3 separate regions of the Homo sapiens genome follow, and regions 1 and 2 are each linked to region 3. Evidence: fine-mapped expression QTL. A gene starts in region 3. Each other region holds a variant in brackets. All regions are shown on one strand. Distances are between the middles of the regions. Region 1 overlaps VAT1L (vesicle amine transport 1 like). Region 2 overlaps VAT1L (vesicle amine transport 1 like). Region 3 holds the start of VAT1L (vesicle amine transport 1 like).

Region 1 (8,000 bases), 93 kb after region 3:
CTTTGAAGTGGACGTGTGGTTTATTATTATCAGTGAGAGTCCCTGCACGTTGCAAGGATATCGGATATGACTAACATGTGAGTCAAATGCAGATGGACGATGTAGTCATCCTTACTTATCATTTACCAATAATTCTATTTTTGTCCCAGTTTCTTGATGTCATTTTGGTGAAATTCAACTTGATTAATCCCATGTGAGTAGTTCACAATTATCTACTTCATTACGTTGATCACTTGGTCACTAATTAATCAAAGTCTAGTACTGGGATGCCCCGTGGTACTCACCCCATAAAAACAGAAGCAATGGTTCACTATTATGCTGGTGTAAGGGTAATTGCAGTCTTCGGCATTAAAAGTAATGGCAAAAACCACAGTTACTTTTGCACCAACTTATTAACTGGCTACTAGTTTACCCAGGCTAAATAGTGTAAAATACACATGACTATTTTATTAAATAACTCCTCTCTGAGAAGAAATTACTCCAAAATCTTTGAAGACAAGGCAGGAAAGTTGTTGAAAAAGCACCTGTATGGTATTTGAATGTTCCCCATACTGTTAAGAGCTCTCTCATTCCCCCCTCCCCTGCCCCGAAACCTTATAAAGGGTCTTTACTCTCCGTATGAGAATCTTAGGGAATCTTTCCCAACTCCACCTCCCATCTGCCCTCTGAATACTGCTTGTCCAATTGGCAAAACTCAGTTTCTCATATGCTTGTCTCAGACCTCTTTGGAGCTGACACATGGATCACACCATTTCTTTGGTCCCTGGGCCCCTTTTCATTCTCACCTGTGAGCTTCTATACCCATTTTTTCCAATCCATCTATATTTTAACTCTGCTCCACCTCTCCCACCATTTAGGTACCCAGTCCAGGTCAGAGCCCCAAGCCCCTCACTTGCTGGGGAATCAAATTCAGAATCACAAAGTAGATTCACTAAGGAGTTCCTTTCTCAGCCTCAAAGAACAGACCTAAAAAGACATTTCAGCAACTCATCATTTTATTCAAACGTTGGCCTACATCATATTTTTGCTATATGCCAAATTTTGCAAAGTAATAAGACGGTCATCATGAGAAATGTCACTTTCTCTTTGATCAGGGACAGTCAGCTAACATAGTCAACTTTATGCCTCATTCTCATTCCCCTCACTTTGCCAAGGCTTAATTAAATTTGTTTTCAAGATTTCTCCAGTTCCGGACCAAACAATTGCCATTTTTTTCATGCATAACAAGAGATGTCCATTTTCATTAGCAATTGCTTAATGTGGGAATCTTTCATTTTCAGGCTCATCCAACATGGTAACTGGAGAGACCAAGAGCTTCTTCAGCTTTGCAAAATCAGTAAGTATCCAGGCACATCTGATGTACTGTGGTGGCATGTTGATTCACATGTTGAGAGCTTTGTTTTTGTTTGTTTGTTTGTTTTGAGACAGCGTCTCGTTCTGTCACCAGGCTGGAGTGCAATGGCACGATCTCGGCTCATGGCAACCTCCGACTCCCTGGTTCAAGCGATTCTCCTGCCTCAGCCTCCCTAGTAGCTGGGATTACAGGCATGCGCCACCATACCCAGCTAATTTTTGTATTTGTAGTAGAGACGGGGTTTCACCGTGTTGGCCAGGATGGTCTCAATCTGACCTCGTGATCTGCCCGCCTCAGCCTCCCAAAGTGCTGGGATTACAGGCGTGAGCCACCGCACCCAGCTGTGAGCTCTTCTATCATAAGGCATTGACTTAATCTTGTCTTTCAATTTCCTCGTTCATTTCCCATAAAACCTGCACTCCTGCCCTATTCCCTGCAAATGGTCAGGACCAGAATTTAGACTACTTTTGTCTAAATGAAACAGAGAGGTGGGAGTGTCAGAGAAACTCAAGAAAGCTACAGCTTTATTTCAGTCAAAATTGCTTAAGTGTTGGTGTCTTTAATTATTGGTCAAAAATGAACTTAGCATTAGTGCATTTTCTTTGCTCCATAGAGCGGCCAGCCTTTCACTTTGCTACTTTCTGACCAGGTCTCTGGGGGTACTTGAGATTTCTCTGTCTCCCCATCCTCTTGAATCGGAGATAGAAATGAGGACCCTATGACCTTAACAAGATCCTGAGGTGACTTGTAGACTCAGACAAGCTCATGAACCACTCTCTTGGGTGATCATGCTTTCAATATGGTGGTTAGTTTGTCGGCCATTGCAAAGCGACATCCCTGGGCATTCACCTCACTACAAATTGACTCTGATCTATCTTCCTATCTGGAGCTATACTTGCTAGAATTATACTGATGTTGGCTTGAACTTTTTTGAGACCGAGTCTAGCTCTGTCACCCAGGTTGGAGTGCCGTGGCATGGTCTCGGCTCACTGCAACCTCCACCTCCTGGGCTGTAGCAACCCTCCTGCTTCAGCCTCCCAAGTAGCTGGGATTACAGGTGTGTGCCACTATACCCAGCGAATTTATGTATTTATTTTGGTAGAGACAAGGTTTCACCCTGTTACCCAGGCTGGTTTTGAATTCCCGGGCTCAAGCAATCCGCTTGCCTCAGCCTCCCAAAGTGCTGGAATTATAGGTGTGAGCCATCGTACTCGGCCAAACTTAGTTTTTTAAATATCATTTCAACACCCCTTCCCCAGCCCAAATTCCTTCTCTTCTTTGAAATGAACCACCAGTACACCAGCACCAGCCCATGTTGCTTTTTTTTTTTCTTCGCACGTTCCAGGGTATTTTTTTTTTTTTTTTTTTTTTAGTAATTTCAACTTTTTAGATTCAGGAGGTACCTGTGCAGGTTTTTTGCCCGGGTATTGTATGATGCTGAAGTTTGGGGTACAAATGATCCTCTCATTCACATAGTGAGCATAGTACCCAATAGTTTTTCAACCCCTGCCCCCCTCCCAGTCCCCTTTAGTGGTCTGCAGTGTTAACTGTTCCCATATTTATGTCCATGAGTACCCAGCTCCCACTTAGGAGAGAACATGCAGTATTTGTTTTTATGTTTCTGCATTAATTTGATTAGGAAAATGAGCTCCAGCTGCATCCACGTTGCTGCAAAGGACATGATTCCATTCTTTTTTATGACTGCATAGTATTCCATGGTGTATACGTCTCACATTTTATTTATCCAGTCCACCATTGATGGGCACCTAGGTTGATTCCATGTGTTTGCTATTGTGAATAGAATGGCAATGAACATACGGGTGCATGTGTCCTTTTGATAGAACGATTTACTTTCTTTTGGATATATACCCAGTAATGAGACTGCTGGGTCAAATGGTAGGAACTTTTATTTTTACCCCTCCCCAACAGGGGATTGCTGCTTTTCACAAGGGTTTATTTTTGCCCCCTCTACTTTTGGACTTCTATGTGCCAGTGCAGCGTCAATTGATCCACTCATTTGACAGGCATTTTCTGAGCACCTGCTGTTTGTGGTATTGTGCCAAGCACTGGGCTATTACAGCACATAAGATAGGTGCACTTTGGGCCTTTTTGGTTCTTATATACTAATGAGGGAGACAAACCCAAAATAAGCAAGATATGTTAATTAACATGATTATAAATGGCTATTAAACCTCTGAAGAGGATAAAAATCAAGTGCTAAAATAGAAAATAGCAGGGTGGGTGGAGGCAATTAAAACAAAGTGGTCAGTGAAAAGTATGGTAAGGAGTTTGGAATTCATTCTAAGTAT[G/A]GCACTATGTGCTATTCATATGCCCTCAAAGTGCCAACATCAGCTTCCAGAAACATCAGCCCCAAACATTCTGGAATGGATAATACTCCCTGCATTTGTGAGATTCAAATCAAAGGTCTTCTCTTTGCATTTGGGCTTTAAAATATGGGTCAAGGATCATCCTAACTACAGAACCGACAGGAGGAGCAAGAATGGAGTGTAATGAAGGATGCTGTCTGGAGTGTGTCCCCTGAAGACAGGCTTTGTGCCATGCACAGCTGCTCTGTTGCTGTGGCTGTAATTAACATGATGTTGACAGACTGCTGTGGGTAACCACACTGGTCCCAAATTACATACAATTGTAAGAAGTGTTTTCCCTTTCTCCTCTAAATGCACAATCCCAACACACAGTGTTAATGAAATAATTGCAGCGTGCCCATGCTCAATGAAGGCATTCATAAATGCACAGCCAGGATGGGGATGGAGATTCCTCTGCCCAAAGCAGGGGTTCCTATTTCCAGAACGCTTTGTACCTGGAGGTCAAGAATGAGGATGTTTTCTTTCAGAGGCCTGCTCAAACACTGAGGGTCATTTGGAAGAAAACTGAAGAGAGGGCCTACGAAGAGGTGGAACTTTGCTCTGAAAAGTCCTAGAAAAAAAATTTTTCAATGTATTCAAGAAGGGCTTAGAAATTAAAGGTCGACTGGAATTATACAGGAATTTCCCACTCAGCTATCTTAATGATGTTGCATCTTAAAATCGCTGCAGTTTGTGCCTCACTATTTGTCAAACATGCTATTTTCTTTCACACCATAACGATGATGATACTAATAGAAGAAGTTAACATTTACAGAGCAATCTGACTCCAAATTTGGAGCTCTTATTCACTAAACCAAAAACATCTTGTTCAAATTAAGATAATAAAAGTGGTGTATGTTTATAGAGCACCTCATGCGTGGCAGACACTGTGCTAAGCACTTGATATGCATTAACACATTTACTCCTCATAACCACCCCATGAGGAACAGTGAGGAAATTGAGCACAGAGAAGTTAAGAGATTTGCCTAAAGTCACACAGCTAGTAAGTGACAAAGCTGAGATTCAAAACTAGGCATTCAGCTCTATAACCTTCTTAACCACAACTGTACATTTGCAGCAAGCATTCATTCCACAAACATTCACTGAGGCATTGCAGATACACTGTGAATCAAGTTATTATTTTTCTATATTTGCTGTATTTCCCAAGTTGGTTTGTTTTAAATGAGGGTCCTAAAAATCACTGTCCCATAGAATAGAATTTTGGATGTAAGGAATACGTTAAGTTATTTAGTGATTTCCAAACCACATGCCTCACCACACCATCTGTGCCACAAACCCTTGCCAGGTAAGACCATCAAAACTGAAAGCCAAGAAACCTAAGGTCAAATGCGTGGCTCTTATTGGTCCCCCGGCCCTCTCCGAATGTGCTTTTGTAAATAATTTTGTATATGAACCTCATCATTGTTTTCAACCTGCCTTTTCCATGCTTATTCTCCTAGTGACACGAGCTTCCCAATTAAAAAAAATAAAAAATTTTCACTTTAGTCAGTCTCCTTAATTCTTTTCGAAAACAGGATATAAATGAGCTCAATGATAACATAAAGGCTATCAATGTTTCTAAATGCCCATCACATTCCTCTTTGCATCCTGTATTGAAATGATTTTGAACATCTTATCCCCTAGAATCCCCCAGAAACTGGACGCTTGGATTTCTAACCTATAACCAGCACCAAAGGAAAAGCAATTAAATCATAACAAAGCAGTTGGATCCCCATTTCTCTAGGTTTCCAGTGGATTATTTACTTATTTTGATATGAAGGGAGGAGATGACAGACTGGAAAAGAGATGGCCACATTAAATAGTTTGTAGGTATTTCACCCAGAACTTTAGTCCAGGGCATCTCGGCTTTAATGCTATGGATATTTGGGGCTGGGTAATTCTTTGTTGTGGATTATTCTTTGCTGTGAATATTCTTTGTCCTGAGCACTGTGGGATGTTTAGCTGCATCCCTGGCTTCCACCCACTAGACGCCAGTAGCACCACCTCCCGCTTCAGTCATCACAAACAAACAAAAATCCCCAAACAATATCAAATGCCTTCTGGGGGACAAAACTACCCCCAGTTCAGAACCATTGATTCAGTCCCAACAATTTGGCCTCATCATTTCTTCATGCTGTTACTTCTTCCTAAATCATCCCTCCTCCCTCTTCATCCGATGGATCCCTACCCGCCTCCCCAGATTTAGCCTTATCAAAACCACTCCCCCAGGAAAGCTGCTTCTGCAGTCAGAGTGGCCACCTCCATCATGTTCCCCACCACATTGTGTAAACTTTTCTGCCATCCTAGTTCCTTTAACAACCCCATCATCACCACCACCATTCACTGAGCCAAGTGCTTTATACTTAATCACAGAGAACGTTGTAGAGCCACGATTCAAGTCCGGAGCTGATGATCCTGACCATGTACTTAATATTTCAACTACATGTGGCCATGTAGTTAGTTTTGGGCTCTCTCTCCCACTTAGACCTGAGCGTCTCATAAGCATCAATGTCTATTGCTTCCCATGCACTTGCAACAGTGCCTAGAAAAATAGATGCTTTTAAAAAAAATACACCACTGTCCAAGGCGGGTGGATCACGAGGTCAGGAGTTCAAGACCAGCCTGGCCAAGATGGTGAAACCCCATCCCTACTAAAAATACAAAAATTAGCTGGGCATGGTCGTGGGCGCCTGTAATCCCAGCTACTCGGGAGGCTGGGGCAGAGAATTACTTGAACCCGGGAGGCAGACGTTGCAGTAAGCTGAGATCATGCCACTGCACTCCAGCCTGGGCTACAGAGTGAGACTCCATCTCAAAAAATAAAAATAAAAAATAAAATAAAAAAATACACCACCAAGAGCAACCCCTTGGCCAGCTGGAATCTGCTGAGCTGCAGCCCCACGTTCCCCCTGTAGTAGCTGATGACATCAGCAATGCTGCCAATGTAGGCTTAACCCCGGTATTGAGTTCCTATAACCCAATACCACCTCTCTTTGCAGTGGTGGCAGGTGGAGAAGGTGAACCCCATCAAGCTGTATGAGGAGAACAAAGTCATCGCGGGGTTTTCCCTTTTAAATCTGCTCTTCAAACAAGGCCGGGCGGGCCTCATTCGGGGAGTGGTGGAAAAACTCATAGGGCTCTACAACCAGAAGAAGATCAAGCCTGTGGTGGACTCCTTGTGGGCTCTGGAGGAGGTAAGAATGGTGCTTTTCTTCTGCAAATAAACTCCTCTTTTTAACTCAGGAAGGTTTGGGCAGCCAAATACAATCTTCTACTAAATGATTTTTTTCCCAGATGGGTTTGTTTTAAATGAGGGTCCTAAAAGTCACCTGTACCACAGAATAGTACTTTGGATATAAGAAATACTTTAAGCTCTTTGGTGATTTGCAAACCACGTGCCTCATCACACCATTTGTGCTCTGAACCCTTCCCAGGTAAGGCCACCAAATTTTGATCAATGTCTACAATTCGGTGTGGTTACAAGAGCATGTGTACATTGTTGAGGCATCATACATATTGTCACCTTGTGAGTACATAAGAGATCAGTGTCAGAGCAGACAGTGATCTGAGCTAAAATGATTTGTGTGCTCCGCTGGATGCCTTGAGCCCCGATGAGACATTAGCTATCACGATGGACTTTGGAATTACTGCTGAATTGTTGGGTCTAAAGTTGGATTGAGTCTTTTTGTTAGTTGATCTTCCAAAAGTTATAGTATTTGGAAGCATTCCTTGATCACAAGAACATTAAGAACCCCTAATGGAGCCTCGAAGGATACTGAAGCATGAACTGGTTGTATTGGTTCACATGGCCCTTGCTAGGAGAAGGCAGGGTCTAGAAAATCCTTCAAGTAAGGGGAAGGTTTGGGCATTTGGGGAGTCAGTTAATGGCAGCTCCTTGTAGAAGAAATGAAGAGATGTGGCCTGGATTTTAAGAGGCATTTCGCTAAGAAACCTAAGTCAAGATTTCTTAGCCTTGGCTTCAGGGAGCCATGACGCCCCTGAAAAATATTTTAAAATATGTGGGAATGTTTTTTTTTTCATTGTTTTGCATTTTGCATGAGGGAAGTGCCTTATGGTACAAGTACTTTGTTGTACTTTTGCAAGTCACAAATACTTTTTAAAAAAATAACAAGTACGAAAGTTCTAGTGGGTGTGCTTCTGGCAAGAAGGCTGTGTCTGTTTGCCTGAACGATTACATTGGCCCAAATCCAATGGCTTCTCTAAGCACAGAAATACCACTAGAAAGGCTCTTTGGGGGTCACTGTATATTCAAATACAAC
Region 2 (8,000 bases), 140 kb after region 3:
GCTGAAACCCCCTCCCCATGGAGCCAGGATTTAAACCTAAGTTTGCCTGACTTTCCAACCCATGCCACTCTCACTGTGCCAGTGGCCCTCAAAGTGTGCACTGTGAACCACCTGAGTTGGAATTCCTGGGGAGCTTTATAATGCAGATTCCGGGACCTCAACCCAGACCTGTTTGTTCAATCTTCGTTGACGTCTACAAGCACTAAATCTTCAGAGCCACCACTGTACCTTGCAGCCTGTTAAAAGTCAGCAGTTCCTTGCCACAGTGGTGGGCTTTGGAGAGTTCTCCCAGCTCTCAATTCCTCCTTCAGCAGGAGACCCTGCAACCTGTGTGACCCCCCGAACCTCGGCTTCTGGAGGACAATTCTGAACATCCGTTAAAAGGAATAACTTTGGCTGGGCGCAGTGGCTCACGCCTGTAATTGCAGCATATTGAGAGGCCAAGGTGGGTGGATCATGAGGTCAGGAAATCGAGACCATCCTGGTTAACATGGTGAAACCCCGTATCTACCAAAAATACAAAAAATTAGCTGGGCATGGTGCCGCGCACCTGTAGTCCCAGCTACTCAGGAGGCTGAGGCAGGAGAATAGCTTGAACCCTGGAGGCAGAGGTTGCAGTGAGCCAAGATCATGCCATTGCATCCTAGCCTGGGAGACAGAGCAAGACTCTGTCATGGATGAATGAATGAATGGAATAAACTCAGGGGCCCAGAATCAGGTCTTAAAATCTTGGTCCCTGGAAAGATTGATGTTAACAAAATTAAGCCAGCATCCTCACCTATCAGGTTTTTTCTACTCTCTGTTGGACTTCTGTAGAATTTCTTTGGTATTTTTCAGAAGCCAGCCTCCTGCCTAGTCACACAGCTTTCTCCTCCGGGCCTCAGTTTCCCAATCTGTAAAGTGAGGGAGATGGACAAAGGCTTCTCCCAAGCCTGCTTCTTTCTCAAAGTTGGTACCCAGGGTGGCTTCACACAGTTTTTGAAAACAAAGTGCCTTCACTACACTGGGGAGAGAGGAAAACAAAACAAAACAAAACAAAAGCTGCTGTGAAAACCATCCCAGGATAGCTCATATGAGCTTAGCAGCCGACACACTGGTGTGTACAGGACCCATTTGTCAAGCTGACTGTCTCTCCACAAGCTTGGATTTCTCCCTCATGGTCTGGGGTCTGCCTTCCCCCCCTCCCTTCCCCCAGTAAAGATGAGGAAATCTATTTATGCAGCTCTGAAACTAGACACACAAGAAGTTGCATCCCCACTGGTTCTTACCAGCTGTGAGACACTGAGCAACTGATTCAACATCTCTGAACCTCCTTGTCTCCATGTGTACATAATACAGATGTCAGCTGGCATCCCCCTTTCTCCCGGAGAAGCTATATTGACTCAGACACCCCCGAGTCAATGTTGTGGTCTTTGAAAGTCTGAAACTCTTCCTTCAATATTTGCTATTTTCTAGGGCTTATGATCTGGAGGTTTTCCTCATGACTGCAGGCAGGATCTCTTTTTCATGCAGGACCACCCCAGCATCAAGCTCAGCCTCTTCACTGGGTCCCATAAGATGCCCCTCCCTGGCACACATATCAGGCATTTTAAGCTTTAGTGTATGAGAGCCGGGAATGAGCACATCAAAATGCACAAACTCCCAGCCTTCTCCAAGCTTCCACCCACTTCTTATTTTCCTTCCTCCCCACTGTTTTTTTTTCCTGAGACAGAGTCTTGCTCTGTCATCCAGGCTGGAGTGCAGTGACACAATCTCGGCTCACTGCAACCTCCGCCTTCCAGATTCAAGCGATTCTCCTGCCTCAGCCTCCCAAGTAGTTGGGATTACATACGTATGCCACCACACCCACCTAATTTTTTGTATTTTTAGTAGAGACGGGGTTTCACCATGTTGGCCAGGCTGGTCTTGAACTCCTGGCAAGTGATCTGCCTGCCTTGGCCTCCCAAAGTGCTGGGATTACAGGCGTGAGCCACCACGCCTGGCCCATTTACCCTTATTTTCATATCCCCTCAACCCAGACTCCAAGACCTTCAATTTTTCCCCCTCTGTCTAGCAGGGTAATGTCTCAAGAATATCAGCAAATAAATTACCTAAGCCCTGGGTAGAGAGATAGCCAGCTCAGTCTCTGTACCTTTTCATTTTACTAAAGGATTTCTTTCCAAATACATGGCCCTTTCCATAAGAATTAAGATATGTAAAACTATCTCTGTCTAATAGTGTATGCATTAAAGGTAAGAATACTCACCCACAAGGCTTTTGAGAACATGGGTGGTCCGTTATGTAAAGCTCCTCATGGAATGTTCAGCTTATAGGTAGTCCTCAAAATTAGTAGCTTTTGCCTTCCCTACCACCAAGCAATGGTTACTGCCAGGGCACACTAGGGTCAGGCAAGCAAGGTACCTAGTGTACACAATTTAAGGAGGCACTCACTCTCAGGTTCACGTGCAGCCTGGAGAGTGAGGGCCTCCTTAAATTTTACACCCCCTGGTCTTTCTCTTGCCTAGTCCTGGCCCTGGTTGCAGAATTGGCCAAACCATCTACCCCTTCTGGTTATCTGAATCTGACAAATGTGAATTTGATCCCAGCTTTACCAAATAGTCACTAATTTCACCTCGATCAAGTGGCTTGAGTTTCAGCCTACCATTTACAAAATCAAGCTAATAATACCCCTTAGTGGAAAGGGTTGTTTCGGGGTATTAAAGAGGTCCATATATGCAATGGCGCTTCAATCAATATTGCTTTTCTCTGCCCAGAGTCAATATAAGAACAAAAGATTATTTCAGCTTTCCACGTTCTAGCGTTTTCACTGCTTCCTTTAATAAAATGAACTCAGCAGGAGATGAGACTAGCTAGCCCAGAACTGTTTTTACAGTTTCCCTTCCTAAAATCAATTTTGCTTTTCCCTCGTTCTGCAGATGACGTAAAATCTAGAGAGACTACAGGAAATTGAAAGAATAAAATAGATGGTGATCCTGCAGAGTTGTTGCTGGGTTACAGAAAAGTGCCTTTTGAGAAATCTA[C/T]CAAACAACATAAAAAGCCAGAAGCAGCATCTTCCTTTAATTCCCCCCACCTCCCCCTGCTTCTGGCTTTGAAAGTCCTTGACCATGAAGCTGCCTAGATGCTTTATTGGGTCCTTGAGTGATCAATGGCATGTATGCATTTGATCCTTTACTGCTGATAATCTGTCATTAAAAAATAGGAGTCGGGGCCGGGTGCGGTGGCTCATACCTGTAATCCTAGCACTTTGGGAGGCCGAGGCGGGTGGGTCACGAGGTCAGGAGATCGAGACCATCCTGGCTAACACTGTGAAACCCCGTCTCTACTAAAAATTAGCCAGGCATGGTGGCGGGCGCCTGTAGTCCCAGCTACTCAGGAGGCTGAGGCAGGAGAGTGGCGTGAACCCGGGAGGCGGAGCTTGCAGTGAGCCGAGATCGCACCACTGCACTCCAGTCTGGGCAACAGAGTGAGACTCCGTCTCAAAGTAAAAAAAAAAAAAAAAAAAATAGGAGTAATAAAATAGGAGTTGGGCCAGGCACGGTGGTGCACACCTGTAATCCCAGCACTTTGGGAGGCTGAGGCAGGCAGATCGCCTAAGGACAGGTGTTTCGAAACCAGCCTGGCCAACATGGTGAAACCCCATCTTTACTAAAAATACAAAAGTTAGTAGGGTGTGGTGGCAGGCGCCTGTAATCCCAGCTACTCAAGAGGCTGAGACAGGAGAATCGCTTGAACCTGGGAGGCAGAGGTTGCCATGAGCTGAGACTGCACCATGCACTCCAGCCTGGGTGACAGAGCAAGACTCCATCTCAAAAAAAGTAGAAGTAGGGGTAAGAGCTAAAAGATACGGTGGTTGATTAAGGACATGGAAGTGTGGCCAGGTTTTCTAAAGAGTATTTCAGGATAAAAACTAAGGTTGACTTCACAGTCCTCACCAACCTCTATGCCCCACTAATGACTCTTCTGAGCAAATCACTGCCCCCTCTAGAACTCTGGCTGAGCCTTTGTTTCCAGCACTGAGACACAGACATGTCCCATTCCGCTTGCAGTCTCCCTTGGTGGGGACACCCTCCCTCCTTCCACATGTGACCTAGAAAGAGACTCTGGCTTCTTGGGCCACTCTATCGTGGCTACCCCTGAAGTTAGAAATCCACCAATCACTTCCTCCAGATTGTCAAGGACCATTACACATTTACATATGCTACCTCTCTGGTTAGGAATGTAGAAGACAACATAACAGTCATAGGCTATTTCCTGAGGAATTAGTACACATCAACACTGTTATGGCCCGGCGCGGTGGCTCACGCCTGTAATCCCAGCATTTTGGGACGCCGAGGCAGGAGGATCACCAGGTCAGGAGATTGAGACCATCCTGGCTAACATGGTGAAATCTCATCTCTACTAAAAATACAAAAAATTAGCCAGGTGTGGTGGCGGGCACCTGTAGTCCCAGCTAGTCAGGAGGCTGAGGCAGGAGAATGGCGTGAACCTGGGAGGCAGAGCTTGCAGTGAGCCGAGATCGCGCCACTACACTCCAGCCTGGGTGACAGAGCGAGACTCCATCTCAAAAAAAAAAAAAAACACTGTTGGGAGGGCTTTGCATATAGTGAGTACTACTGTTGTCCCTACTTTACAGATGAAGAAACTGAGGCTCAGCAACTAGTAAGAAGTACAAACAGGATCAAAACCAATTGATCCATCTCCAGAATCTGCACTCTTTAGCCACTAGCTTTTGCTGTCATCCTATGGCCACCCTAGGTACACCCATTCATTTGCATCAGGCCGCCTGTCCTGATTTGCACCTCAAAAAAATTGAAAAACTTTGGCCAGGCGCGGTAGCTTTTGCCTGTAATCCCAGCACTTTGGGAGGCTGAGGTGGGCGGATCATGAGGTCAGGAGTTCGAGACCATCCTGGCTAACACAGTGAAACCCCGTCTCTACTAAAAAATTAGCCGGGTGTGGTGGCACACGCCTGTAGTCCCAGCTACTCGGGAGGATGAGGCAGGAGAATCGCTTGAACCCGGGAGGTGGAGGTTACAGTGAGCCGAGATCACGCCACTGTACTCCAGTCTGGGTGACAGAGACTCCGTCTCAAAATAAATAAATATAAATAAATAAATAAACTTTTCAATTTCCTTTGAAAATTCTTACCACTAGTATCCCTGATCTACAGTTCTGACTCTCTTTCTGCATGGAAATCAAAAGTCATTTGACCTCTAATTCAATCCTTCCCATTAGGATGGGATGCCTCTTCCATACAATATCAGAATAATAAAACAATGCAGTATCTTCAGTGTCTACTGGGCTCAAGTGGGCCATTTTCACAGCAGGCCTTATTGACAAAGTCATTTTAATATTGTTTAGTTCAATCAAAGACCCCAGAGCTGGCCTCCTTTTGTAAAGATGAACCAGAGCAAGACCTGGCTCTGGTTCATTTGTGACCTGAGAAGTCCCAGGGAAGCCAACATCTCTCTGGTCACCAGGCTTCCCTCTAGCAAATGTGTGTGTGGAGAATGCTAAATGAGAAAAATTACATAATTGCTTAACACACTTGTAAAAACTCAGCTGTTTGCTAATCCTGCTATTGTGACTGCTATTATTTCTCTCTTATGATTATTCCATCATGGTTGGGGGAGAATTCAGGGATGGAGGGAGATGGTCACTCATCTTTTAAAAGATCAAGTATTGAGATTTTTCATAACACTATCCTGTGAGAGACAAAAGTCATAGCTGAATCTTCCATAACTGTCATCTCAGAAACCGCTATCTTGGATGTGATGTGACAACCAACATTTCCTCTTAAATAAGGCATTTGTAGCCCTCCCCTTGACCATAGTGATATTTAAAGAAATTTCTGTAATCAAGGAAATAAGATTTGAAAGCAAGCCCCTCGTAAATGACGTGTTTCATATTACTCACCAAAATCAGTAACAAAAACAATTACACAAAATGTCTTAAATTGATGGGGGTGTCAGGAGAGTAAGAATTTTTTTTTTAAATGACTGTTGAAGTCTTCTAAGTCACTGTGCCAGTATGCTCTATTTTCGTTTGTTTGTTTGTTTTTGAGATGGAGTCTCACTCTGTCACCAGGCTGGAGTGCAGTGGTGCAATCTCAGCTCACTGCAACCTCCCCTTTCCGGGTTCAAGCGATCCTGCCTCAGCCTCCCGAGCAGCTGGGACTACAGGTGCGCACCACCATGCCCCGGTAAAAGTTTTTGTATTTTTAGTAGAGATGGGGTTTCACCATGTTGGCCAGGATGGTCTCGATCTCTTGACCTCGTGATCCGCCCCCTTGGCCTCCCAAAGTGCTAGGATTACAGGTGTGAGCCACCGTGCCTAGCCGCTCTATTATTTTTATGCTGTGTGATACTGATGTACTTTGAATGCTCTCTATTTGAGCTCTGCATTCTCTGGATTGATGGAACGCGACATTTTTCTTTGTCTCCAGAAATTCCCCCTCTCCTTCAATAATGAGTCTCTAGACTTAGTACTGCCTGAACAGCGGGATACTCTCTTCCAGGCAGGGATCATTAGTGAAAGATTGGCAACATTTTCTCAACACTGGTAGAAAGAGGAGTTATATGAGCCCTCTGTGCATGTGTTTTTAGGTACATGTATTTGTATTAGGCCCTAGGGAGTTTCAAGACAAGCTGAATTTCCTTCAGTGTTTAATACTTCATAAATAAAGCCTTATTAGCAATTCTCAGCTCCAGCAAATCATGGATGTATTCCAGAGAACATTTAAAATATAAATGTAATTTCAAGTGGAAGAAAAGAGCCCCATTTTTCCAAATAGTCAACATATCTCAAGACACTAACATTTTCAGGACGGAGAGGGTGACAGATAGGGAGTCAGATGGGAATGCTTTGGTGAGATAGAGAGCCCTCACAGAAAGAAACAAAGGCCACTCTCCCCCTCACTACATGCTTAAATACTCACAAGGTGACATGAGGTAGGTGTTGGAATTATCCCCATTTTATATTTGATGAAACATTTACAGGTTAAGCAAACTGTCCGAGGAGACCCAGATAATAAGTGGAAGAACTGGTATCGGAAGTTAGCACAGTAACTCAAAAACTGCCCTCTGGCTGGGTGTGTAATCCCAGCACTTTGGGAGGCCTCAGCAGGATTACTTGAGTGGAGGAGTTTGAGACTAGCCTGGGCAACACAGCGAGTTCTCCAAGTCACTGTCCTCTTCAACATGATATATTTTTCTTCCTGCGTGCCTTTCCAGAAAAGATGTCTTATTTCCAAATGAACCTCCAACCAATACCCATAGCCCATACTCCTTATCCCTTTTAGAAGGACCTACCTTCCAGCCCAAACTTCGTATCCTTCTTGAAACAAACCACCCACACCCCTCTTTCCAGCCCATATTCCATGTCTTCCTTGGAATGAACCACAAGCACCCACCCCCAACACATATTCCTTATTGTTGTTGAGATGAACCACTGAATTCGACCCCTAGCCTGTATTGTCTGTCTTTCCTGGTCATGCATGGCCTCAGTGAAAGCCACTAGGTCTCTCCCATGAGTATCATTACTGATGTTCTTTGGGGGGACATGGCTTAGCTGTTTCCAAACAATGGCCAATTCCACCTACCCCATCCATTGATCCTATCTCTTACCTCGGGGAGAAGGGCCCACAGGAATTTAGTCTGGCCCTGTCCTTTGAATGGCTCTCTGCAGTGGCAGGTAAGACTGGTACGGAAGGAGGTGTGAGGTAGATAACCCCTCGCTGAATCAAACTCAAAGAGACTCTCAATCCGGACTCAACGTTCTTGACAGGTTCCAGGGCCCGTGCCCCGCTTATATCTCAAGGTAGGTTCCGTAGCACTCAATAAAACCCTCTGCAAGGTATGGATCATCATTTGGTGGTTGGATAATCCTAATCTCAGGGTGTTGAAAGCCCCCACTGTTAAGAAAACCTTCAGTCTTCTTCCCAGGAAATGGACATCTCCTCTTGGCCTGCTCCAACATGCAGAGTTGTTCAAGGGGGCATG
Region 3 (8,310 bases):
CAACGGAGGCTCTGAGTGAATGTCCAAGGAATCAATTTTACAAATTAAAAATTGATTTATTGTGTTTATTTGGAGATATGCCATGCACTGTGGCTCTTTCCACGTTCCACCAGGGAGTACCAGAGTTGGGAATATTTAACAATAGTGGTATATAGGACTCAGAAGAGGGTATCTCCCCACCCCCCCACAAGCAGCACAGACTGTGGTGGGTTCTCTCTGGGTTGTTGTGATAATCAGCTGCCTACCAATTATAATCTGGGGTTTGTAAACAGCCAGAAGATTCCCTTGGAGGGAGTAATTATATTCCCTTTAACACACTGTAAGACAAACACTTTCTCTTTAACATGCTGTGTGCTGACTACAAAGTGGGTTTACTTTACTAATGCCAAAGGAAAACAAACACTCAGAACCAAGGCAAGGGACCTTGGTGGTACAGAGATAGTAGGCGGTGAAAAAAAAGAGCAGGGAACATTAAAAAATGCCATGGAGTATTGTCAATCAGGGGCAGAACTGGTTTGGCCTGTCCGTATAAACATGCATGATGAGATCTTAAGAGCACAGATTTGGAGTTGGTCTTCTATCTCATTATAACTAGCATGTTCCTTTGAGCACAATAATTCATCATGTTAAGATTCATTTTCATTTTCCTCTTCCATAAAGTGGGAATAGGAATTCTTACTCATGAGATTATTTTCAGAATCAAATTAAGAAATATACCTACAGTGTCTAGAACAGTAGACACCTCCAAAACAATAACATATATTGCAGATATTATTGGTGCCAAAGCTATGTCTCCATGGAATTCATCATTCCATGTATAAAATGATAGCTTCCTGCAAAGAGCATCCACAATTCTCTGCCTGGGGATTCTCTCAGCCCAAGTACATGGGACAGGATGGAAATGTCAAGGAGTTAACAATTCCAGGAACAGTTCTTGACCAATCAAGCATAGACTTTAGTGAATAAATACCTATGTCCTCACTCCTTGGGTGAGACAACTCTGAGACTTGTTCTACACTGTCTCTCAAATGTCCCCTGCGGGTTTGAGCTCCAATTGTCCACTGCGGTAATCTGCTTATTAATACATCTCATATTGGGTAGTATCAATTTTCTGTCTCACTTTCCTACTTCCCAGCCAGAGCTTCCTGGGATTACTTCCAAAATAAACGACGGGTGTTCAAATTCTTGTTTCAGGACAGAATCCAGCCTAAACACTGTATCTCACAATGTAAACAAGACAAACAATTTGGACAATTGGATTCACAATAAAATGTTCAATTCACTAACCAAGCCCTATTCAGGCTTCTTTTAGCCCTCTTCCTTCCATCCCATGGCCATTGCCTCAGTTGGGACCATTCTCATTTATTTTGTTTCTTTTTGGGGATTTTTTTTTTTTTTTGCCTGCACTTAGTCTCTAACTGATCTCGATGCTTCCAGTAACTCTATCATCTAATCCATCACCCACTTACTGTCAAAGTTATTATCCTAAAATGCAGTTCTGGTAATGCTCTCCCCATGTTTTTGTTTTTTAAGCCTTTATGGCACCAATTGCCTCTGTGATTATGTCTTAAATTTTATAACCTGGTATGTGAGAACTTTCAAAAGCTGGTCCCAATAAACCTTTCAGCCTCATCTCCAATGATTGCTAAATACAGCCAATGTTCTGCCTACATAGAACAAACCAGAATCTCAAAAGCCCTTTTACCTGTTACCTTTCTGTGTTATTTGAATGAGCTTGCGACCTTTTCTGCCAGAAGAACCTGCCTTATCCTTCAAGGTCTAGCCCAAATGTTCCCTCCTCCATGAGAACTTCTCCAACTCTCTGGACCAGTTTTTCAACAGGCTGCCTCTGTGCATATTCTACTATGTACCAATCATGTATTAAGCCCTGGGAAAACCACGCTGGATAAAAGTAGAAATAGCTCCTGCTCACATGAAGTTCACAGTTGGATAAAGGAAACAGATATTATCAGGTAAACATATAAAAGTTGGCTACAAAGGGACATAAGTGTCTATAGTCAGGGAGGACACCAATCTGGAGGTTGGAGTGCCTCCCAACAGGAATGGACCCTTGAGGTGAGAACGAAGTAGGAGTTAACACCAGATAAAGGAGATGGAACACATACCCCAGGCCAAGGGGACAGCAGGTGCAGAACCCTGTGGAAGGAGGGAAAATGGCAATCGTCTTTTTTTTTTTTTTTTTTTTTTTTAAGGAATAGAAGACAAGGGCATTTAAAGCAGTGAGGCACAGGAAGAATGAGGGGAGAGAAGAGGCAGCACTTACATCATTCATTGTACCACATTTGTTGACTGTGTCCTTCATGCCTCATGCTCTGAAATTGACCTTTTCCAATATAAGGACCATGTCTCACTGAAATCATGTCCACCCCAGCACTTCACACAATATAGAAAAAAAAATCAATGTACCCAATTTATAGATGAGTGTGTTGAGGCTCAGGAAGGTTGAATGAGTTGCCCAAGATCTCAAGGCTGGCAATGGCATAGCAACTATAATAGAATATAGACCTACTTCCTCACCTGCATCTCTTTCCTTAAACTGCCCCTAGGAAAACCACGTCCTTCCCCATTATTTTATTTCAGAAATTCCAAGTTTTTCTATGAGCTGTTTTTCTCAAAGAGCCTGATAACAAAACAAAACGCCAGTTACTACTCTGTGTATGTGCATGCATGTTGGGGAGCGGGTACACACTGGTCTTCCGGGGATCAGAACACGAACAGGATCCTTTCTGGTACAGGATTCTTGTCTGAAGCCTCTTTAATAGCCCGAAATGGTGTGGGTGGTGAGAATTCGCCGTCGTAAGGAAGCCCCTGGTGATACCCAGCAAAGAGCATCCCGGCTGACCCTGCAGGTCTGGAGTGAAAAGACCCTGCACTGGACTCTTCAGGGCAGTGAGCGGGATCTCTAGTTCCCTGCTTCCCAAACCTCTCCGCCCTTCCACCCAAAACTGGCTGTTTGAGAAACGACCCAATTTCCCGACTATCCCGCCCAGCCTCGAAGATGGGAGGGAGAGAGGGCAACCTTGTCGCGGTAAGGCATCCTCCAGGCCCAGACATTAGTCTCGGTCCATTTCAAGGCACCCGAGCCTGTGCCGTATATAACCAAGTACTGGGCCCACAGGAAGGGGGATGACAGGGTGGTCTCTCTAGGCTCGTTTTAGTCACAGATCTTCGGCAAATTTGGGTTTAGGGCCGCGATCCCGACCCTAACTTGGGACTATTTCAGGAACTGGAGTTGAGGCTTCGTTGGGACAGGAAAGAAGGGTGGGGCGGGGGTGAAGCGCTTAGGGCACGGCTCTTGTGAGGATTACGGCGGAGGCTGTGGACCGCGGCGGCGCTCGCAGAGGCTGCAGCCATTGCACAGCCGAGCATCCCACATTCAACAGGAGGAACCCGCGGGAGAGGAGCCCCACTCCCCCAGCGCCGCAGCCACCGCAGCCACCGCAGCCCGTGCGCCCCGCGCCCTCGAGCGCCATGGCCAAGGAAGGCGTGGAGAAGGCGGAGGAGACGGAGCAAATGATCGAGAAGGAGGCAGGCAAGGAGCCGGCGGAGGGCGGCGGCGGCGACGGCTCGCACCGCCTCGGGGACGCCCAGGAGATGCGCGCGGTGGTGCTGGCTGGCTTCGGGGGGCTCAACAAGCTGCGGCTCTTCAGGAAGGCCATGCCCGAGCCTCAGGACGGCGAGCTCAAGATCCGCGTCAAAGCCTGGTCCAGTATCCGCGCCTTTCTCGCTTTCTCTCTTTTTGCGCGCTGGGCGCTGGGGAGGGGGTGGGAAAGCTGCGGCTGGGATGCTGCCCGGGTAGAACCGCCGCGCGCACCCCCTCCGCGCCCTCACCCGGGTCTCAGAGCCTCCCCGGGCCAAAGCTGGGGAGGATGCAGAGGGGCGGCCTCCCCAAGCCAGATCTAGGGGTGACGGGAGGAGAATGTGAGCTCCTGGGCGCGGGGAGAATGCTGGCGCCCAGGCACCCCGGGTCTGGAAGATTGCGCTACGGGAGTTCTCCGTCTGAGAGGACAACTCAGCTTTCGCACGGGAGGGTTGATGCTTAACAGAATTAAAAATATATGTATTAAGAACCGCAAGCCCACTGTGTGCCAGCCGCCGTTGGTAGTTTTACACGTGCGATCTTATTTAATACTTCCTGGGACCTAATGAGTCAGGTGCCATCATGATCCGTTTACAGGTAAGAAAGCCGCCGCTCAGCGAGAATGAGTGATTTGCCCAAGATCAGTCAGCTGCCACTAAGTGGCTTGGCCGGGAATTTGATACATGATCTTTTTTCACCTCTATGCTGTTGTCCTGAAGGGCCTGGGACAGGGTGCAGGGCTGGATCCCGCCTCCTGCCCACTTCCTTCCCCGTAGCCTGACGGGGAAAGGAACTAGGAAGGAAGAGGGTCGGTACCTTGCACCCAGGCTTGGTGAGGGTGGAGACCAGGGCTGCAGCGCAACCCCCTCCATGCCCCTCTCCATCCTCTGTTTCTCCGAGAGGGGAAAAAACCCTGATCAGTCTCCCCGGAATTCCTGGTCCCATCTCAGAAGGAGCTCAGCTCTCTAAGCTGCCCTCTATTCCCCATTCCCCCTGGGGGAACTTCTCCAGGCCCTCACGCTCAGCTGAAATTCCCGGGGAGAGTTTAAGCCTCTCTGTGTGCGGGCACTGTAATTTCCCTGAAGTTCTGGGAAGAGCTTACCCAGCAGAGGCGGACTGGACCCAACACTAGGTTTGCATGTTAAACTTGTAAGGGGAACTTGCTATTAATCACGGTGAGACGAGCCTATTCCTTCCCATCTGTTTTCTAGAGCCCCCCAGTACATACTGCTCTCCAAAGCAGCAGCCAGCTCACGAGCTTCTAGGTTAGATCAGAAACCCAATATCTGGACCTCTCTAGAGGCACGAGAAATACAAACGAGGGTCCCCTCCCGTTCACCACCTTGAGAACAGACGCAGGTTTCATCGGCCAGATTAGAAAGCAGCTAGTGGGAGAAGCAGCCGCTGATCCCTGCCTTGCTGCTCATATATGCAGCTGGTCAGGTTTGACTCTGAACACGACTCGTGAGTCTCTGTGGGGAATTCCGGGTAAGGGAAGAGGCTTTTGCAAACCGGGGGATCCTGTACAATAAACTCTTATTGAACCAAGTTGTTTGATCCCAGAAGGAGAGCTTATATCTGCCCTTTCGCAGCTAAATCCCCAAAGACCAGCCCACTCCCCCACCCCACACTGTTTGGCCCACTGCACATCCTAAATAAGTTATCGCTGAATGAATGGATTGAGGAAAGAGCTCGGAGGAGGATTGTTGGGTCATTATTTTTCTTTACTTGCTGGTGGAAGAGCTTTTGCTTAGTACAATTAAAACCATGCATTTAGAACTCTCCTTCCTTAACCACTTCATCAAAAAAAATTACCTGTATACACACACCTATGCATATATGTGCATATACATATATACAATTATATATACAGTTGCATATGTATGCGTATGTAATTTATGACCCTTCATCCAAATTGAGGATGGGATTCTAGGATTCTAGAGTACATATTCAGAGAGGGAAAATGATAAAACTACTTTTTAAAGGAAAGAGCATCATCTGCAGTACACATAGTTCTGTGTTTTCCAGTCTTATGTTAACTGCATAATTGCTGATAGGAACTGAAGCATTTTGAAATAATAAATGTCAAGATGAAGGCCAAGAGATTGATTTTCAAAGCCAGATGTGAAAGCCTGTTCTTCAGTGGCGCTACACACACACACACAGAAATCACTGCACTTCCCCGACCCTAGTTGTTCAGAAAGCCAACCAGGCTGCAGGTACATTTGGAATACAGTGTTGCAAACAGCCCAGATTGATTTTCCTTTCACCAAGCTGGAAGCAGAGTTAATGGTTTTACAAGGAAGGATTGTAATAGGCTTGTAAATGGCCCACTGGGCAGCTCCTTCTCCTCTGGGCTGGGATTGGCTGGCCAGACATGATCATTGATTATAAGTTTTAGCCTTGGGATACAGGATGACTCATTCTGTATTTTTATGAATCAGCCGATGGCTTCCTGGATGATGGTCTCCCTTTTATCTGCTCTCTATTTTTAATAGAAACCTTTTTGTCATAATAGGATATGCTTTTTGCTTGGAATAAAGCATAGTCCATTTGAACCAGTATTAGACAGACCTGGAATGACGTTCCAAGTTGGCTATGAATTTTATGAAAATGGAAGAGATGAGGCAGGAAGAAATATCCATTTTATATCATGGACCCTTTTTCATTAATGCGCCAGTGAGATGGGTATTTTTCCTACAGAACAGAAGAGCAAATTGAGGCTTGGAAACATTGAGTAATTTGCCAAAAACATCAAAAAATAGTAGACTTAGGATTTGAATCTAATTCTCCTTATATTTTTGCTATTTTCCTTTTATTCCATTTTTGTCTCCCTTGGTGGAAAAGCCTTAGCACATGTGATTCCCCTCTTAGCATGCAGTCTCACTTTCTTTCCTTTCTCCACCGAAGATGGTTCCTTTGCTCTTTTTGTGTCTGGCTTAAGAGAATATTCTCTAGCTATTTCCAAAGTAGTATGGCTTTCTCCAGAAAGTAGAGACATTTTGGTCAAATGCAGCTCAAAAAGAACTGTTGCTGGGGTCAGGGTTGGAATGATAGCAGAGTCTTCTGTCTAAATTGTTTTTTAAAATGTCAGTTTTGATGGCAGATGGATTTCACCAATTATTCATGGAATACTTTACGCAACAAGAGGTTTAAGTGACCAGGTGGAAAAAGCATGTGGCCCTTGAAGAGAGAGGGACTTGAATATAAGCTTAAGCCTCATCTCTTCCTATCCATATGCCCCTGGGGGATGTGTCTCAGTGTCTCCAAACTTCCCATACATTATCTGCAAAGTGGGGATAATAAAATGAACTTCATGGTATTGTTGAAAGGATCAGATGCAAGAAAGACACTGCCGCGTTGTCAGCATTCAATAAGTAGGATTCATTGTGACTGTCGTTGTTGCCATATCTAAACCAATGTGATATATGCTGCTTGGTGACCTACAACTTGGAGGCCATCATTTTAATCATGTATATAATATAGGCAATATCATGTCACATCTGCTTAGTGATTAAGAGAGCTTCCTAGACATGAGTCCCAGCTCTGATACTTGCTAACTGGATGTCTTAGGTCTGGCTCCTTGGAGGCAGAACCTGACGCAGGGATCCTTTTTCAGGTGGTTTATTGAAAGTGTGCTTTTAGAACTATGGGAGCAAGGGAAGCAGGCTAGGGAAGAGGAAGGAGTTAAGCAAAGATGTGGTCTTAGCTGGATCCCACTGCAGAGTCAGTCTCACCTTGAAGCAAGGAACAGAGGGAGCCTTGTGTGTCATTGGCTGTGAGCTACTTTCTAAGTGGGGACATTGAGCCTCTCAAGCAGAAGTGGCTTCTATCTGACTGAGCAAAATTCTCTAGGGAAAGGGATGACTCTGAGGCTTGAGCATCCAACACTTCCAGCAGTTTGGGGATGGGCACCTGCCCATAGACAGGATCTGGGTGAGGTACAAACCACGCCTTCTGGTTGGCCTTGGCCATGTTGTTGTTAAAAACATGTTAACAAACTTCTGTTTCCCGGACTATAAAATAGAGCATCCATTTTATAATAGCATCCCCCTTCATAGTATTGTAATGAAGCTTAAATGACATGCCATATACAAAGACCTTTATAAGGATGCCTGGTGCTTAGCAAGCAGTCAAAAAATGATAACCATTATTATCTAAACTTTTACTTTTGGTTGCCGTATAAACTTTAGTTTATTATTCAAACTGGAACTCTTGTATTTTGAGACAGGCATAGCAAGTAGTCAAAAAATGGTAACCATTATTATGTAAACTTTTACTTTTGGTTGCCATAGATACTTATATAGTTTATTATTCAAACTGGAACTCTTATATTTTGAGACAGGGTCTTGCTCTGTCACGCAAGGTGAAGTGCAGTGGTGTGATCATGGTTCACTGCCACCTTGATCTCCCTGGCTCAAGTGATCCTCCTGCCTTGACTTCCTGCATAGCTGGGACCACAGGCATGTGCCACCGTGCCCAGCTAATTTTTTTTTAATTTATTTTTTGTCGAGACAGAGTCTATGTTGCTCAGGCTGGTTTCAAACAAACTGAACCTCTTCTGAAAGCAGAAGGGGCACTATTTATAATTACTCCTACATAGGAGAAGCTACAATCATAAACTGGAACTGTCTTAGGCAAACCAAGGTGTATGGTTCGCCCCTAACTGATACAAGTCAGAACTGTGCCTTTGCTGCTATCAGTCTTGT

Evidence for each region.
Region 1: its variant is fine-mapped to the expression of VAT1L in tibial artery (GTEx, PIP above 0.99). The same link has a PIP of 0.9 or more in aorta and coronary artery.
Region 2: its variant is fine-mapped to the expression of VAT1L in cerebellum (GTEx, PIP above 0.99).

Annotation. Positions count from the first base shown.
Region 1 is chr16:77,877,889-77,885,888 of GRCh38, forward strand. VAT1L (vesicle amine transport 1 like) reads left to right here. Exons shown (of 9, transcript NM_020927.3): 6 at 1,281-1,336; 7 at 6,720-6,914. Among named protein-coding and RNA genes, the nearest start is that of VAT1L, 93 kb to the left of the region's middle. RefSeq lists an enhancer at 1-632. The variant G/A (reference allele first, on the strand shown) is at 3,664.
Region 2 is chr16:77,922,775-77,930,774 of GRCh38, forward strand. The region is part of intron 7 of VAT1L (vesicle amine transport 1 like); the gene reads left to right. It overlaps LOC105371351 (a long non-coding RNA gene), which reads right to left. Exons shown (of 3, transcript XR_007065123.1): 3 at 6,960-8,000. Among named protein-coding and RNA genes, the nearest start is that of CLEC3A, 96 kb to the right of the region's middle. The variant C/T (reference allele first, on the strand shown) is at 3,021.
Region 3 is chr16:77,785,191-77,793,500 of GRCh38, forward strand. VAT1L (vesicle amine transport 1 like) reads left to right here and starts at 3,374. Exons shown (of 9, transcript NM_020927.3): 1 at 3,374-3,725. The coding sequence starts at 3,493. The region is part of intron 1 of LOC107984878 (a long non-coding RNA gene); the gene reads right to left.